Linked DNA regions of Homo sapiens: region 2 is linked to region 1. A link means that fine-mapping ties the variant in region 1 to the expression of a gene that starts in the linked region. Tissue or cell type: whole blood. Region 1 holds a variant in brackets; the other region holds the start of a gene. All regions are shown on one strand. Distances are from middle to middle.

Region 1 (8,102 bases):
CTCCTGATTCTCTACATCTCTAAATGACACTATTGGTGGTGTACATGCAATTTCACTCCAAAAGCAGTGGTTACAGTACACTCTCCAAAAAGCTAAAATTAGTAAGACTGGCAATACCAAGTGTTGGCAAGGATGTGGAGTAACTGGAACTCTCATACATTGATGGTGAGAGTATTAAATTGATACAACCGGCTGGGTACAGTGGCTCACGCCTGTAATCCCAGCACTTTGGGATGCCAAGGCAGACGGATCACCTGAGGTCAGGAGTTCAAGACTAGCCTGATTAATATGGTGAAACCCCGTCTCTACTAAAAAAAATACAAAAATTGGCTGGGCGTGGTGGGGGGCGCCTATAGTCCCAGCTACTCAGCAGGCTGAGACAGGAGAATTGCTTGAACCTGGGAGGTGGAGCTTGCAGTGAGCTGAGATCATGCCACGGCACTCTTGCCTGGGTGACAGAGCAAGACTCCATCTCAAAAAAATAATAATAAATAAGTAAATAAATAAATAAACAAATTGGTGCAACCACTTTAGAAAAGTGTTTGGCAGCCTCTATGAAAGCTAAACACATACCTAGCCTATGATCTAACAATTCCACTCTTAGGAACATAGCCAAGAGATATGGATACATATTCTCACCAAAAGACATTAAGAAGAGTGTTCTTATAAGTTTTTTATAAGACTTACTCAAAGCCAGGTGTGGTGGCATGTGTCTGCAGTCCCAGCTACTCAGGAGGCTGAAGTGGAATGATTACTTGAGCCCAGGAGATCAAGGCCACCCTGGGCAACATAGTGAGACTCCATGTCTAAAAAGGAAAAGATTTACTCAAAATAGCCAAAAATACAAAACAACCAAAATGTCACCACAGTAGAAGAGATAAATGAAACATGGTATATTCATACAATGGAATATTACACAGTTATTTTTTTAAAGGACAACTATTATTACTAGCTATAACATGAATAAATCCTACGGATATTACATTAAGAAAATAGACACACAGTATCTACCGTATGAATCCATTTATATGAAATACAAAAATAGGAAAACTAATCCAGCAGTAGAAGTCAGAATAGTGGGGGTGAGGCATGAGGGGTGGGAATTGACTGGAAAAGGACACAAAAGAATCTTCTGGGATGCTAGAAAAGTTCTATATCTTGATCTAAGTAATCAAGATACACATCAGATACACATCACATCAAGTATGATCGAGATACACATCAAATACAGGTATGTGATCAATCTTAAAAGCGTTATAGAAAAAAGACACAAAAGTCTATATGTAGTATGATTTCATTTTGGAAAGGACAAAACTGGAGGGATAGACAATAGGTCAGTGGTTACCAGAAGATTTGGGTAAAAGGAGGGAACTGCAAAGGGTTACAAGCAAACTTTTGGGGATGATAGAAACAGTCTATATTTTGACTGTGGTTGTGGTAATCTGACTCTACATAGTTATCAACATTCATCAAATTATACATTTAAAAGGATGAATCTTATAGCTCAATTATAATTTGTTGCCTAGTTTGAAAATATTCAACAATCTAAACACTTAAGATTAGTATACTTTGGCTGGGCACGGTGGCTCACACCTGTAATCCCAGCACTTTGGGAAGCAGAGGCAGGCGGATCACCTGAGGTCGGGAGTTCGAGACCAGCCTGACCAACATGGAGAAACCCCATCTCTACTAAAAATACAAAAATTAGCCGGGCGTGGTGGCACATGCCTGTAATCCCAGCTACTCGGGAGGCTGAGGCAGGAGAATCACTTGAACCCGGGAGGTGGATGTTGCAGTGAGCCAAGATGGCACCACTGCACTCCAGCCTGGGCAACATGAGTAAAATTCTGTCTCAAAACAAAGATTAGTATACTGTGTGTACTTCCTATACTATGTGTATATTATATTTTAATTTTAAAAAGTTTGAAAAGTAAAGAAAAAAAAAGGAGGTTAAGTGGGTTGTAAGGCATGCATTCCAGTCCAGACTTTGCTACTGGTGTGTTATGTGAAATGCTTTAATTGTTGCTACTGAATAAAAATACAGAAAGTGTTAGGCCTGGAATGGGCCCTGAAACTCACATAATCTCACTTTGATCTACCGAGGAGTAATGATCTCTGAAATATCACACAGCTAGTCAGTTGTGGAGGCAGAAATGAAAACCTAGGACAACTGACTCTCAGACTCTGGTTCAATTCCAGTTCAAGCGAGATTTTTAAAAAGTCAAACTGATCATTTGATAATAAAGAAGTAGCAAATTTTCAACTAATTGTGTAATACTGGGCCCCTGTTTGCACATACAGTCATGTGCCACATAAGATGTTTTGGTCAACAATGGTCGGGCACGGTGGCTCATGCCTGTAATCCCAGCACTTTGGGAGGCCAGGGCGGGTGGATCACCTGAGGTCAGGAGGTCGAGACCAGCCTGGCCAACATGGTGAAACCCCATCTCTACTAAAAATACAAAAATTAGCCAGGCGTGGTGGCAGGCGCCTGTAATCCCTGCTACTCGGGGGGCCGAGGCAGGAGAATCACTTGAACCCGGGAGGAGGAGGTTGCAGTGAGCCGAGATGGCGCCATCGCACTCCAGCCTGGGGGACAAGAGCGAAATTTTGTCTCAAAAAAAAAAAAAGATATTTTGGTCAACAATAGACCACATATACAATGGTGGTCCTATAAGATTATAATGGAGCTGAAAAATTACTATCACCTAGTGATGTCATAGCTGTCAGGATATAATGAAACTAATTTTTAAAAGATAAATTTAGTGGGCTGGGCGCGGTGGCTTGGGCCTGTAATCTCAGAACTTTGGGAGGCTGAGCGGGGCGGATCGCCTGAGCTCAGGAGTTCGAAACCACCCTGGGCAACATGGTGAAACCCCATCTCTACTAAAACACAAAAAATGAGCTGGACATAACGGCACATGCCTGTAGTCCCAGCTACTCAGGAGGCTGAGGCACAAGGAACGCTTGAGCCCGGGAGGTAGAGGTTGCAGACAGCCAAGATCACGTCACTGCACTCCAGCTTGGGCTACAGAGTGAGACTCTATCTCAAAAACATGGCGAAACTCCGTCTCTACTAAAAATACAAAAATTAGCCAGGCGTGGTGGCACACACCTATAATCCCAGCTACTCAGGAGGCTGAGGCAGGAGAATCATTTGAACCCGGGAGGTGGAGGTTGCAGTGAGCCCAGATTGCACCATTGCACTCCAGCCCGGGCAACGAGAGTGAATCTCCGTCTCAAAAAAAAAAAAAACTTTAAAAATAAATAAATTTAGTGTAGACTAAGTGTACAATGGCTTTTGTTTTGTTTTGTTTTGTTTTTTGTTTTTTTTGAGATGGAGTTTTGCCTGTCACCCAGGCTGGAGTGCAGCGGCATGATCTCGGCTCACCGCAACCTCCGCCTCCCGGGTTCAAGTGATTCTCCTGCCTCAGCCTCCTGAGTAGCTGGGATTACAGGTGCCTGCCACCATGACTGGCTAATTTTTGTATTTTTAGTAGAGATGGGGTTTCACCATGTTGGCTAGGCTGGTCTTAAACTCCTGACCTCAGGTGATCCACCCGCCCTGGCCTCCCAAAGTGCTGGGATTACAGCCCTGAGCCACTGCGCCTGGCCAGTGTACAGTGTTTATTAAGTTTACAACAGTGGATAATAATGACCTGGGCCTTCTCATTCACCCACCACTCACTCCTGACTCATCCAGAGCAACTTCCAGTCCTACAAGCTCCATTCATGGTAAGTGTCCTATACAGGCATACCATTTTTATCTTTTATACGTATTTTTATTGTATCTTTTCAACATTTAGATACACAAATACTTACCACTGTATTACAATTGCCTACGGTATTCAGCATAGTAATAAGTTGTACAAGTTTGTAGCCTAGGAACATCTATACCATATAGCCTATGTGTGTACTAGGTTATATACCATCTATATTACTGTAAATACACTCTATGATGTTTGCACAAAGATGAAATAATCTAACGACACATTTATCAGAACATAGTCCTGTCATTAAGCAACATATGACTACATTTGCTTTTCACTTCCCAAATGCCACTGTACTCCAGCCTAGGTGAGAGAGTAAAATCCTGTCTCTAAGAAAAAAAAAATTATTGTTATATATATGAGTTATCCGTGATCATTTGATAATAGCAATTTACCCAAAAATGCAGATTATGACAGCCTCTATTTAGGAAGCTCCAGCTAAATCTTGGCATACCATCTACCCCTTCCTGTCTGGGGCCATCTCCAATGTCACTTAGTCATACAAAGTACCCAAACTGCTCTACCACTGGGAGAGGTATTTTAGGTACAATCCAGATTATATGACTCCTTTATTAACTCCTCTGAAAATTCAGTTCCTCTGAAACAAAGTCAACATTTTTAAGTCCACACATTCACAAACACCCCAGATCTTATCAAATTCTATAATATAAGATGGTGTTCATTGTGCTACATAGTTCCTAACAATATTCTCATAAAATTGCAAACAAGAGCAGTTATGCCATACTTCTCTTGAAAATTGAAACATTAAGGAAGTGCTAAATCAGTGATCTCTAGTTTCTCTTTCTATGCTCTGTAGCTATCTAAATGACCTTTTGACCCCCTTCCCCTCCCATCCCTCACTAAAACCCAAACACTAACTTCTCTCTGACCTCCACCCCCTGCAAAACAGAAAAGAAACTAGTATGTTATTTACACTTTTTGATTGACTGACTAGTTACACTTAAGTTCCTGTTGTTGTTGTTGTTGTTGAGACAGAGTTTCA[T/C]TCTGTCACCTAGCCTGGAGTGCAGTGGTTCAGTCACTGCTCACTGCAGCCTTGACTTCCCAGCCTCAAGCAATCCTCTTGCCTCAGCCTCCCAAGTAGCTGGGACAATGGGTGTGTACCACTACACTCTGCTAATTTTTTTTTTTTTTTAATTTTTAGTAGAGATGAGGTAACATTCTGCTGCCCAGGCTGGTCTCCAACTTCTGTGCTCAACTAATCCATCCCCCTCAACCTCCCAAAGTGCTAGGATTACAGGCATGAGCCACCGCACCTGGCCCACTTTAGTTCTAGTAAGTTTTAGCAGTATGTTAATTCAAGCAATATTTACATTTTAAGCCATTTTATCCCTTATTGCATAATGAAAGGCCAATTGCTTCTCCATTAAAGAATTCTGACCTTCAATTTAACTTCAGTAAGCAAGTGAGAAATATTTTGGAAACAAGGAAGAACTTGCAACTACACTTTGTATTCCTAGTCTTGGGGAGTCATGAACCACATTAGAATAGCTGAGAGGAGCTGGGCGCGGTAGCTCACGCCTGTAATCCCAGCACTTTGGGAGGCCGAGGCAGGCGGATCATGAGGTCAGGAGATCAAGACCGTCCTGGCTAACATGGTGAAACCCCATCTCTACTAAAAACACAAAAAATTAGCTCGGCGTGGTGGCATGTGCCAGTAGTCCCAGCTACTCAGGAGGCTGAGGCAGGAGAATCTCTTGAACCCGGGAGGCGGAGGTTGCGATGAGCCAAGATCTCGCCACTGGATTCCAGCCTGGGCGACAGAGCAAGACTCTGTCTCAAAAAAACAACAACAACAAAAAGAATAGCTGAGAGGCTATAAAGAAAGAACCCAAAGGATCATTTGCTCATTTACTCACTCATTCGTGCATTCAGTAAACATTTACCAAGGGTCTACCACGTGCCAGGTATTGTACAAGGCAGACAGAATTATAAGATATGGTCTCTATCCTGAAGTAGTTTGCAAGGAGGAGTCGCAAACAGATTAAAAATATTTAAAGCCCAAAAGTGAGAAGCGCTCTGACAAGTAGAAAACACTGAAAAAGAACAGGAGAGATGGGATTCACTTGCCCTGGGGAGAGTCAGAGCAGGTTTCATACGGACAGACCTGTGAGCTCAGCTTGAAGGAATGTGACATGTTGAAAGGCAAAGAAAGGGTTGAAATGGGTTTCCCAAACTTTCAGCCAAATATGAAAGGAGACAGGAGGAGGGGAATGGGTTACCTTTCTTTGCACAGAGGGAATTTAAGGCCAGAGAAGCTAATGACAAGCCCAGTGTCCACCGCAGCCACAAAGAAAAAGGGCTGTGGCAGCAGCTGGGCCCCTTCCTCTTATCTGTAGTCACACAGAGAACACAGTTGATGACAAGCCTTGCCAACATGCCCTTAGCCACTTTAGGGGAGGACAGGTGCAAACATTTTCATATAACTCCATACTCAGCCTACACTCTTTAAAAAGTTATGTTTGTATCAGGATATATCATTGGAACATAAATTTTATCCACATCCTTTAAAATAGTTACAATTTGGTTTTGCCCTGTTTTTGGCCTAAGAATTTCAAAGCCTTTGTTGGTGTTGAATTTAGGATCACAAAGGTTTGTAATCAAACAACGTCCTTGCCTCAAAATAGCTTCCTTCTAGCCAGGGAAGTATTAGAGGGGGTCTTGCCTAGCTATAGCAGATAAAGGCTTATTCCTGGAAGCTTGCTGAAGGCAGAGAAGCTCCTATTCCCTCCTCCCCAAATTCTAGCAAAGCCAGGTGTGTCTCTACAATATCCAGTGCTGACCTCTTTTGCACAATTTCTTGGCCTAAGCAACTTTCTTAGGTCTTTAACCCTCCCTTGCCCCAAAATGTGCAGATGAATAGGTTGTCATAAAGCATATTTGATGTTATTTTAGTCAGTGTCTAATATTTTTGTATCACAACCGTATTTCTTAGAGTTCTAAAATATAGCCCTCAAGGCTGGGCACTGTGGCTCACGCCTGTAATCCTAGCACTTTGGGACACCAAGGTGGATGGATCACCTGAGGTCAGGAGTTCAAGACCAGCCTGGCCAACATGGCAAAACCCTCTCTCTACTAAAAATACAAAAATTAGCCAGGCGTGGTGGCACACGCCTATAATCCCAGCTACTTGGGAGGCTGAGGCAGGAGAATCACTTGAACCTGGGAGGCAGAGGTTGCAGTGAGCCAAGATCACACCACTGCATTCCAGCCTAGGCAACAAGAGTGAAACTCTGTCACAAAAAACAAAAACAAAAACAAAAACAAAATAGCCCTCAAACCCCTACATTATTCCAAACTCTGACAATGTTAACAATGAATATCCATTCTTTATTCTTTTTAAAAATATATTCATTCTTTCAACAGCATTTATCCAACAGTGAGGCAACGGGTTAGTTATCCCCTCAATGCCCATTGTCTCCTTCTTCCACTTTAGCTGGGCTCATGGCCACCCACCCACAGATGGTATTTCCTAGTATCCTAGGTGTGGCCACATGACTACATTTATCAGAATGGAATGTCAGTGAAATCTCCAACTATATTGTAAATTCCTGATGATCAGAAACCCTGTCTAACATATATTTTATTTCCAACAGTACCCATCCAGTATTATGTTAATAAATGTTTGTTGATCTAGCTTTTTATCTTGACTAATGTTTCATCTATACTATATATTTTGCATCAGAAATAAATTTTATGATTCTAGAAACATGAAAAAGAATAGAATGTAAATGGAAGTAATGTGTACAACTTACAAATCATTTACTTCACAGGAAATTGCTTGCTCTCCATTTTTGCTCTACTCCTCTTCCTAAAAACTGAAATAGGGATGTGGAGCTGACACAGCTTCAACCATGTAGAAAAGACTAGGGAATGTCAGAGCAGCACAGTGAAAGAAACAGATTCTGAATGACTTCACATGCTGAGGTACCCCACCAGTGTAGATGCTTACATTCCTCTAACATGTTACATACAAGAGAATTAAACTTCAGCCATATTTAAGCCACTTAATTTTTTGGTTTCTTTGTCACAGTAGCTTAGCTGGACCCTAGTTAATATAAACATTTATTCAATGTCTTTTGAGCGTTTACTATGTGACAAGAACTGTCTTCTGGGTAAACATAAAGTGGCGAATAAGCGGAAAAGCTCCCAGAACACAGGTTGCTTATAGTCTAGAACAGGGGTGTCCAATCTTTTGGCTTCCTGGGGTCACATTGGAAGAAGAAGAATTGTCTTGGGCCACACATAAAATACACTAACACTAATGATACCTGATGAGCTAAAAATATATATCACAAAAAAAACTCATAATGT
Region 2 (8,085 bases), 43 kb after region 1:
CCCTCTTCCAGCTGCTCCGGCTGCTCAGGTCAGCCCCTAATCCTCCATCCCCTGCCTGAAAACACCGCCATCCTGGGAGAGATTCCCCTTCTCACCCACCCATCCCCCACCCCTCCCAGGCAATCTAGCCCTGCAAGCCGGTCCACCTCTGCCTGCACCTGGCTTCTGGACCCTCTTTCCGCCTGGGGATCAGCTCCTGAGACTCCAGCCCTGCCCTGCTGCAGTGGACAAAGCCACCCTTGCACTGGGGGCCACTGGGCCCACCTAGGAGCCCCCCTAGTGCCCCCTCCTTTACACCCCCAACACTTTCCAGGGAATTAAATTCAGAGTCTGAGGCGCTACTGGGAATCTTTCAAATGGTTTCGGTTCTAAAAGAGAAACAAAGGAAGAGAGAGGCTGAGGGTCCTGTCCATGAGCCAGGGTCTCCTCGCCTGACCTTTGTCTCTCACAGCCATAACTCACTCTAGATATGAACAATCGGCGGAAATACCTTAAAATAAATTCCATCCTCCTGGTATAGCCTCGACTTCCATCGGCTAGCTCGCCCAGAACCGCTCCATGAGTGCTGAAAACTGCAATCGGCTCAGAGAGCGCTCTCCGGAGAAGGGGAAGGAGAAGGAGGAGGTGGGTGCGTGGGGGTTGGGGGAAAGCTCTGGCTCTGTAGAGAATCTAGAAAACGTAATCACAGGCGAAGCCTGTCTGGGTCTCCGCTCCAAATGCCACAATAATGCGCTGTATTATGTGCTCACGTGGTCATACGTCAACTTAAATCCTTTTATTTGAAATAGGGAACCACTGAAGGAACTAGGTTTCCAAACAGAATATTTAGCTTTGGGGGAGGGTAGGTGGGGAACCTTGACCAGCAGTTTTGAGTTTAAGAGTTCTGTCTAAGCAATAGGATGCTTGGAGCCATCCTCCCATGAATGCCATATAAGACATACAAGCTTATCTCCACTTATATTTCTTTACACACCCTCCAAACACAAGGGTTACAGCAATGCTATTCACATTTTTAGAATCCATTTAACTTTCCTTACAGCCTCCCACCCACGGACAAGCTGGATCCTGCACACCCATGCACCCCAGTCTCCTCTGGCCCACAGGCCAGTATATCAAAAGGCAAGGGGCAGGCCCAGAAATAACTGGCCTGGACAGCGGACTTCCTCACAGCCTGCCATTGTATGGAGTTTGCTAACACCCACACCATACACTACAGACGCAAGAAACACCAAAAAGGCACATAATTACCTGACAAAAGGTTAAAGCATCTCCTCCAAGTCCAGTTGGTTTTGTTCAGTGGGAGCCCACTAGGAAAGATGTGCTTGGCTATAGAGTGGTGGGTCCGGGTTTTGCAAAATCTAGAGAAACCTAGTGCCCTGACTAAACTTGCACTTAAGCATTTCCTCAGTGCACAACTGAGTGATACATGGAATTATAAGTTTCTAAACATAAAAAATATCAGAGGAAATGATCTAATTGCTCTGCAAGAGACCCCCCCCCCCAAAAAAAATAAGAAAAAAAAGAAAAAGAATCAACCTTCACTGGAGTGCCTTAAGTTAACAAGGCAATCTGGGACCCTCTCCACAGGCAGGTCTGTCCACCCACTTTTCCAAGACAATTCTGTGTCCACCAGCAAATTCTCTCCCCACCCCCACACAAGTTCCTATAGAGATATCAACTCAAAGATGAGAAAGAGCCCCCTTCAGAACTCTCAAAATAATCTTGAGCAGAAAACCAGTAGAGAACCAACTGTGCTCAGGAAGAACCTAACTGAAACAAATAAGCTGCTCCCACCCTTGGTTCCACCCCTACTCCTGCCTTCTGCCTGATGACATTGCCCACTAATTTCAACATTGTACCGTTTCATGAGCTGTCTAAAAATCTTCTCTTTTCTGGTCTTAGTTTCTGAACTTCTGAGAGTGCTCTGAGGCTAGTGAGATCCTCAGGCCATATTCTTTTTTTCCTGGAGAATGGGTCTTCAGCTGGCTATGCCTGAGTGTGAGGACTCACTTATAGCAGCTGCAGGAGGCTGTGCATGATTCCTCCCCTTCACTCCTCCCCTGCAGAGGAACAGAAGGGGTCTGATGAAAATGTAAGGCCTTTCATAAGAGAACTTGTTCATGGGTTGTCCAAATCAGAAAGGCAATAAAAGAAGAGACCTAATCCCCTGGAAGCAAGTCCTGGCCTAAGCTGGTGACAATATTTCAGTAAGGTTCAATCTGTGGTGTAGCTGGAAGAGAACCTCCATGTGAACTTTTCCAGCTCCTATCTAAGTTACAAGCTGGAAAGTAAGAACTCCAAGTGAAAACCTGCCTCTCTCAGGTTTGGGGGATAGAGGACAGGAGTAGAAGCTGGTTTCCAAAAAGCGTTCTCCTGACCCCCAAGAACTCACTCCTCTCATTCTTACTGCTGCCTGCCTCATACCCCTCACCAATCATTCACACTGAGCTCTCCAGATACCCTAGAAAGGGACCTGGAGGTATTGCTGGCAAATTCCTCCCTACCCCCAAGTTTCTGAAGAGGCATCAACTCAAAGATGAGAAGGGGCCCCCTTCAAAGCTCTTGGAACAGTCGAGCAAATGAAAACTCTTAAAGCCATAAATTGTCCGGGTGCGGTGGCTCATGCCTGTAATCCCAGCACTTTGGGAGGCCGAGGTGGGTGGATCATGAGGTCAGCAGTTCGAGACCAGCCTGAACAACATGGTGCAACCCCGTCTGTACTAAAAATACAAAAATTAGCCAGGCATGGTGGTGCATGCCTGTAATCCCAGCTAGTCGGGAGGCTGAGGTGGGAAAATCACTTGAAACCAGAAGGCAGAGGTTGCAGTGAGCTGAGATCGTACCACTGCACTCCAGCCTGGGACAGAGCGCGACTCTGTCAAAAAAAAAAAAAAAAAAAAGCCATAAATCAATGAAATAAGTCATTGGTACTGCTTCAGAGAAATGCCTTAACGCCAGCAAAGCTCAGAGGCATCTCAGCTCCAGCCTGGGGCCTCCAAACGGCTGCTAACATCCAGTTAATGCTCCAACTGCTGTTTAACAATTAACATTAATGACTTGGGGTGGGATGGGTGATTTGGTGGGATGAGAAGGGAAAAATCTGAAAAGTCAAAAGACATTTAACTTTTGAGGTTAAAAAACAGCTTCTCTATGAGAGATCTTGGCCTGGGCAGCCTATCTGGGGAACCAGCAGCTGACAGTCCTCCTTTGCCACTCTGCAATCCAGTTTCCTGGAGCAAAGCTACGGGCCTTTTAAAAACCCAGCTGCCAGTCCCTCTTCACTCACTTCACCGGCCTCCAACTTGGCCTGCGCTGGGACTGATACTGTGGTCCTGGTCACCAGAGCCAAAATAGGGGGAAAGCTGGCTTGGAAAAAGCAGGCAACCAAGGGTACACACCGTTAGCCAATATTTGCAAGGCTGTTGGCAGATTAGATATATCTGTACTCAAACACTGCAATCTGATTTCTCTGTCAAAAGTACACTTAACATTTTTGTCCCATTACTTAAATCTAGTGGATTTTCTACTCAGCATCAGGTAAGGCTCTCTTAGCCCACTGTGTGCGTGTGTGTGTGTGTGTGTGTGTGTGTGTGTGTGTGTGTGTGTATGATAGATTCTTATTTAACATGAGATATTTCCTGTGGGTGCAAGTGCAGTAGAGAAATGGGCCAAGTTCTCTGGACACGTGTGGATGTGTATATTGTGTTATACACAAGGCCCCAAATTCCTGCAACTATTTATACATGCAATTGTTCTGTTGTTTGCTGAGATGGAAATCATATACACAGAGTTACAAATTCCTGAAATGTTCCATCTATATTTGATATAAACAGACATACAGTAGCTGAGAAAGTAACACAGCTTGACTATTGCTCTGTTTACCTTCTATTGGAAAAAATAATTGTATCCAGAACACCATATCAGCCTTATAGCACGACTGAATATCATGTTGCAATTAATTAACAACCTGATATCTATTTGGGAGCAAATTTAAGGGAAGACTGGAGGCCTAGGAAATAGAATACAAAATCTCAAAACTTTTTAAAAAGAAGTAATTCCTGAAAGAACAAAGCAAACTCATTCCTTCATACCATGCTTCTGAAAGCTATTCCAGCAGCCCCTCCCCCAAACAGGCATGTAATTTATGGATCTTTTACAAGGTAATAAACCACAGTAATTACCTCCCTGCATCCCAAACTAAGAGGACAAATTAAGTCAGAACTTGAAAATAATTTAAAAGAGTTTTCCCTTGTTTCAAATAGGAAAAGGAAACGCCAAGACATAGAAAACCACGCTTTTCCCGTAGGAAGAACCGATGATGAGCCCTGATGAAAGAAGGAAGAAGACCCGCTGTCTGCGAAGGCCTAAAGGTTAGAAATACAGCAATTTTTCTCATGCCGAAGGAAAGGCAAAATGGTCTAAGAAACTGCAAGAGTGTGATACAAGTTTTCCTCAACAGCGAGCTGGGACTGGCGACAATTTCTTAACTCACAGCCTCCGCAGTCGCCTTAGTCGACAAAGAGAGCAGCCCACGCAGCGGCCGCCGCGCCCGTGCCCGTGGCCTTTACTTGCTTTTGCCCTGAAGTTCAGTGTAGTGGTTTGTTTGGGGCTTGCAGGAAGAAACAAACACACTCCCTCTGACTCTCCACAACCCATCTTTGCCTTCTGCAACCGCTTCTCCTGCCCATCGCTGGTTTTGGGGTAGGCTCTTTGTCTGCCTGAGGCCCCGCACTCGCAGGGCAAGAAGCTTAAAGGAATCCAACTCCAAACTCCTCCGAAGTTAAATATTGACCAGAACCTCTTTCAACAGGCCGCGGTTGCCAGGAACCGTGGAGGGCCAACTCCTCCCAACCGCCCTGGTGCAAAGTCCCACGCGGCGAAGAGTTTTGGAGCAGCGCTTACCTAGAAAGATGTTTAAATTCTGAACCAGGAATTGTCTCCAACTCCAGGCGCTCAGGGAATCGCCTTTTCCGGTGTCCAGGCGCTCTGCAGACAAATAAACAGCAGAAGGTGAATGGCGGCTGCGAGGGAAGGGAGTTGGAGGCCGGGAGTGGGAAGCGAGGCTCATGCGGGCGCCAAGGTGGCCCTGGGGGTGACGCGAACATCAGGGAGTCACCAGGGCACTCGTCCGTGTGGCGCACTCATTGCTCGAAATGTTCCAGTCTACAAATGGTCCGAAGATGGTGATTTATTTTTGTAAAATAAATACATACTCCATCTCCACACCCATACTTTCTCCTTTTTCTTTCTTTTTTTTGGCGGGGGAGTGGGGAAGGAAAGGACATGAAGCAAACAGAGGAAGCTGAGAAGGTGGAAGTGGCTTTGCTGGTGGTGTGGGCTGCTTTCAGAGAGCTCTCTCCTCAGGCACCACAACTTGGAGAATGTGAATGCTTGCTTTATTTTCCTTTCCTAACAAAAGGAAGCCTTGTCTGGGAGCATTCAATCACGGACTCTCCTGAAACCTCACTAATATGTGTTCATTTCTGTAGGCGCGAAATCAGACCCGGGTTCATTCCACTGGCCAGAGGCAGTCTTGGGAGGATTTGTGTTCTGGTTTATTCAACTCTGGGTGCGTTCCTTTTAGGTCCTAGTGGGCTGGCGGGGCTACCGCAGCACCTAGTCCCTCAGAGCAGGCCAGCTAAGGCTGCTGGAAACTGAGAGGGACGCCGGCTGGTACAATACCTGCTCAGGGGCCCTGCTCCTGCCTGGCCTTGCGCAACGGCCACAAGCCGATCTGATGCCTTGATTCTGCTCAAATCTCGTCCCTCACAGTATTTGCAACCCTCTCTTGCCCTCTAACCAGCAAATGGTCACCGAGCCGGCAGTCAGCTTTCTGGGAGTGGGAGATGATGGGGAAAGAGGAAAGAATCGTCCGCTCGCCGGACCCTGGCTTGGAGAAGTTCTGCGCTCCGCTGGGACTCTGCGGGCCCTTTGCGTCTACAGACCTATCCCTGCCCCGACTACCCCTTCACTCAGACCCAGGTAACCTCTTACCCCAGCCTGCCCCAAACCAGCCCTCCGCTGTCTGTCTGCCTTCACGCAATTCTGTAGATAGCGCTAAGAGGGGATATCAAATAGCTGAGGAGTCCCCTGACCCCTGGCTTCGGAGCCCCCTAGCACGTGGAACAAGTGGCCGCACACCGGTAGCTGCGCTCTGCCACAGTTCGACCCGTAGCCCCCACAAACCAAAGGAAAAGGACCCAGGATCCACGCTGCGCGCTGCGCCCCCTTTCTCTTGTTCAAACTTGCTTTCTGTGTCCCCAAAGGGAGTGCCCCCTGGTCTTGGGGCTCCTGGCATGACCATGAGCAAGGTGGACTCAGCCATCCTGCACTTTGCCTCTCAATTTCATTCCAGAAAGATCCGCTATGCCGCCACCCACCACTCCCCTGCGTGACACTTAGGAGTATGTAATTATTATGGTTATTATTTTTGCTGTTTCCTTATCTCCAAGTCTAATATTCATGGCTGCTGTACCCCATAAATCGTTCAGACTAATGAGTCACAGAGAGATGCTGCCCAGGTCTCTCACTTTACAATGGCTGCCGCCGCCGCCGTGGCCTCTCTCTCCGCGTTTTTGGCGCTCGCTTGCTCCCTCGCTCGCCCGGCGCGGGTGATTTATGAACGCCGGGAAAATTGAACAAAGCCGCGCGCCCGTCCTGTGGTATCTCTGCAGCCTTCCCCAGCGTGAATCAGAACATTACCAACTGTCTGCGCATCCGTCCCACTTCATCACCAAAGCCAGGATGTGACCGCAGAAAACCCAAGCCCGAACTCACGTTTCCCCGGACGCGGCGCGCTCCCTGGACTCGCAGAAACCCTGCGGAAAAGGCCCCAAGATCTGGTGAGGGCCTGCCAGCTCCGTCCTCCCTGCCGAGGGCTCTCTCCTGCCTTCCTGAAGGAGTTAAAAGCCTTTGGAGATAAATCTGAGGGTGTGTGTTTTTAAAAATCAAATGGTAAGTTGGAATCTCACTTCTGAGAGATTCATTCCTAGTGAGGCCCTGACGACTCCGATCCATTCCTGACGATCTGCATTAATTATTTAATGAGTCACGTGACCTCAAAGATTACAATTTCAATATCTCCCTTGCACAGGCGCTACACCTTTATCAGCTGCAACCAGGGTCCTTTTTTTGGCTCTGCCGGCCTCCGGGGCACATTCATCCTTGCCCTGGTCTGAGGCAAGCCACCACCATGGAAATAGCAGGGCAAGCATGACAGAATTAGTCATCCTGGGATTATGACCGTTGTGGATAGTGGGGAGTCCACTGCTCTCCGAGATGCCCTGACATCTGTCCCCTCCTGAGCCCAGTGGCCAGTCCACCTGTCTGAGCTCTATGACTAGGGTGGCTTGGTTACAAAATCTCCCCAAGCAGCTTTGATGGCCCATGAGGCAAGAACCCATCCTTCTTCTCTGGCTGTACACACCTGTGACCGTCCAGGTCAAGTGTAAGCTTAGATGCATACCTCCATTCCTGGCAGAATATCTTCCTAAGAGGAAAGATGTCTGTGCTCTTATTGCTCTCTAGAGTGAGACTAAAGGTTGCATTCCACCCTCGTACTCATTAACTTAAGGAACGGTGGAGGGAGGATCATTCGGCTGCCTCAGTTTTCTCATCTGTAAATTAAGAAGATTGAACCAAAATGGCCTCCAGGTCTCCTTCACTTTGGACAGTCTTTCAATCTGGGAATCTCTTTCAGCCCCAGGAAACAATCCCAGAGAAAGTAGGGCTGGCTTGAAAGGGAAGGGGTTGCCCCGTGATTTTGGAGTCTTCAGAAGAGGTGCCAGAGTTCTGTAAGTTGCAGCCTAGAGGGTTTCAAGACAGCCACAGCAGCCTCCCTCATACCATCAAGGGAACAGAACACACGTCTCTTCCTCCTATTGTTTCCAGCCCATGTGTTTCTTTGGAACACGAAGCAGAATTATTCTTGGGACAGTGTATAATATAGGGAAGGGGCAACACAGCAGCAGTTGAGAAAGGTGAGCCTGTGTTCTGCTATACAAGACTGTGTTTAGGGATGCAGAGACCAGGGGAGTGCCAAGGGCAGCCTACTGCCTGCACAGAACCCACTCATTCAGAGGGGAA

The links. PIP is the estimated chance that this variant, and not a neighbour inherited with it, causes the effect.
Region 2: HOXA-AS2 starts here. The variant in region 1 is fine-mapped to the expression of HOXA-AS2 in whole blood (TOPMed, PIP above 0.99).

The regions. Positions count from the first base shown.
Region 1 is chr7:27,075,125-27,083,226 of GRCh38, forward strand. No RefSeq gene overlaps it. Among named protein-coding and RNA genes, the nearest start is that of HOXA1, 17 kb to the right of the region's middle. The variant T/C (reference allele first, on the strand shown) is at 4,774.
Region 2 is chr7:27,117,657-27,125,741 of GRCh38, forward strand. HOXA-AS2 (HOXA cluster antisense RNA 2) reads left to right here and starts at 4,263. Exons shown (of 4, transcript NR_122069.1): 1 at 4,263-4,370; 2 at 4,811-5,010; 3 at 5,804-5,982. HOXA3 (homeobox A3) reads right to left here. Exons shown (of 6, transcript NM_153631.3): 4 at 4,903-4,986. RefSeq lists enhancers at 4,040-5,239, 4,818-5,615, 6,415-7,212.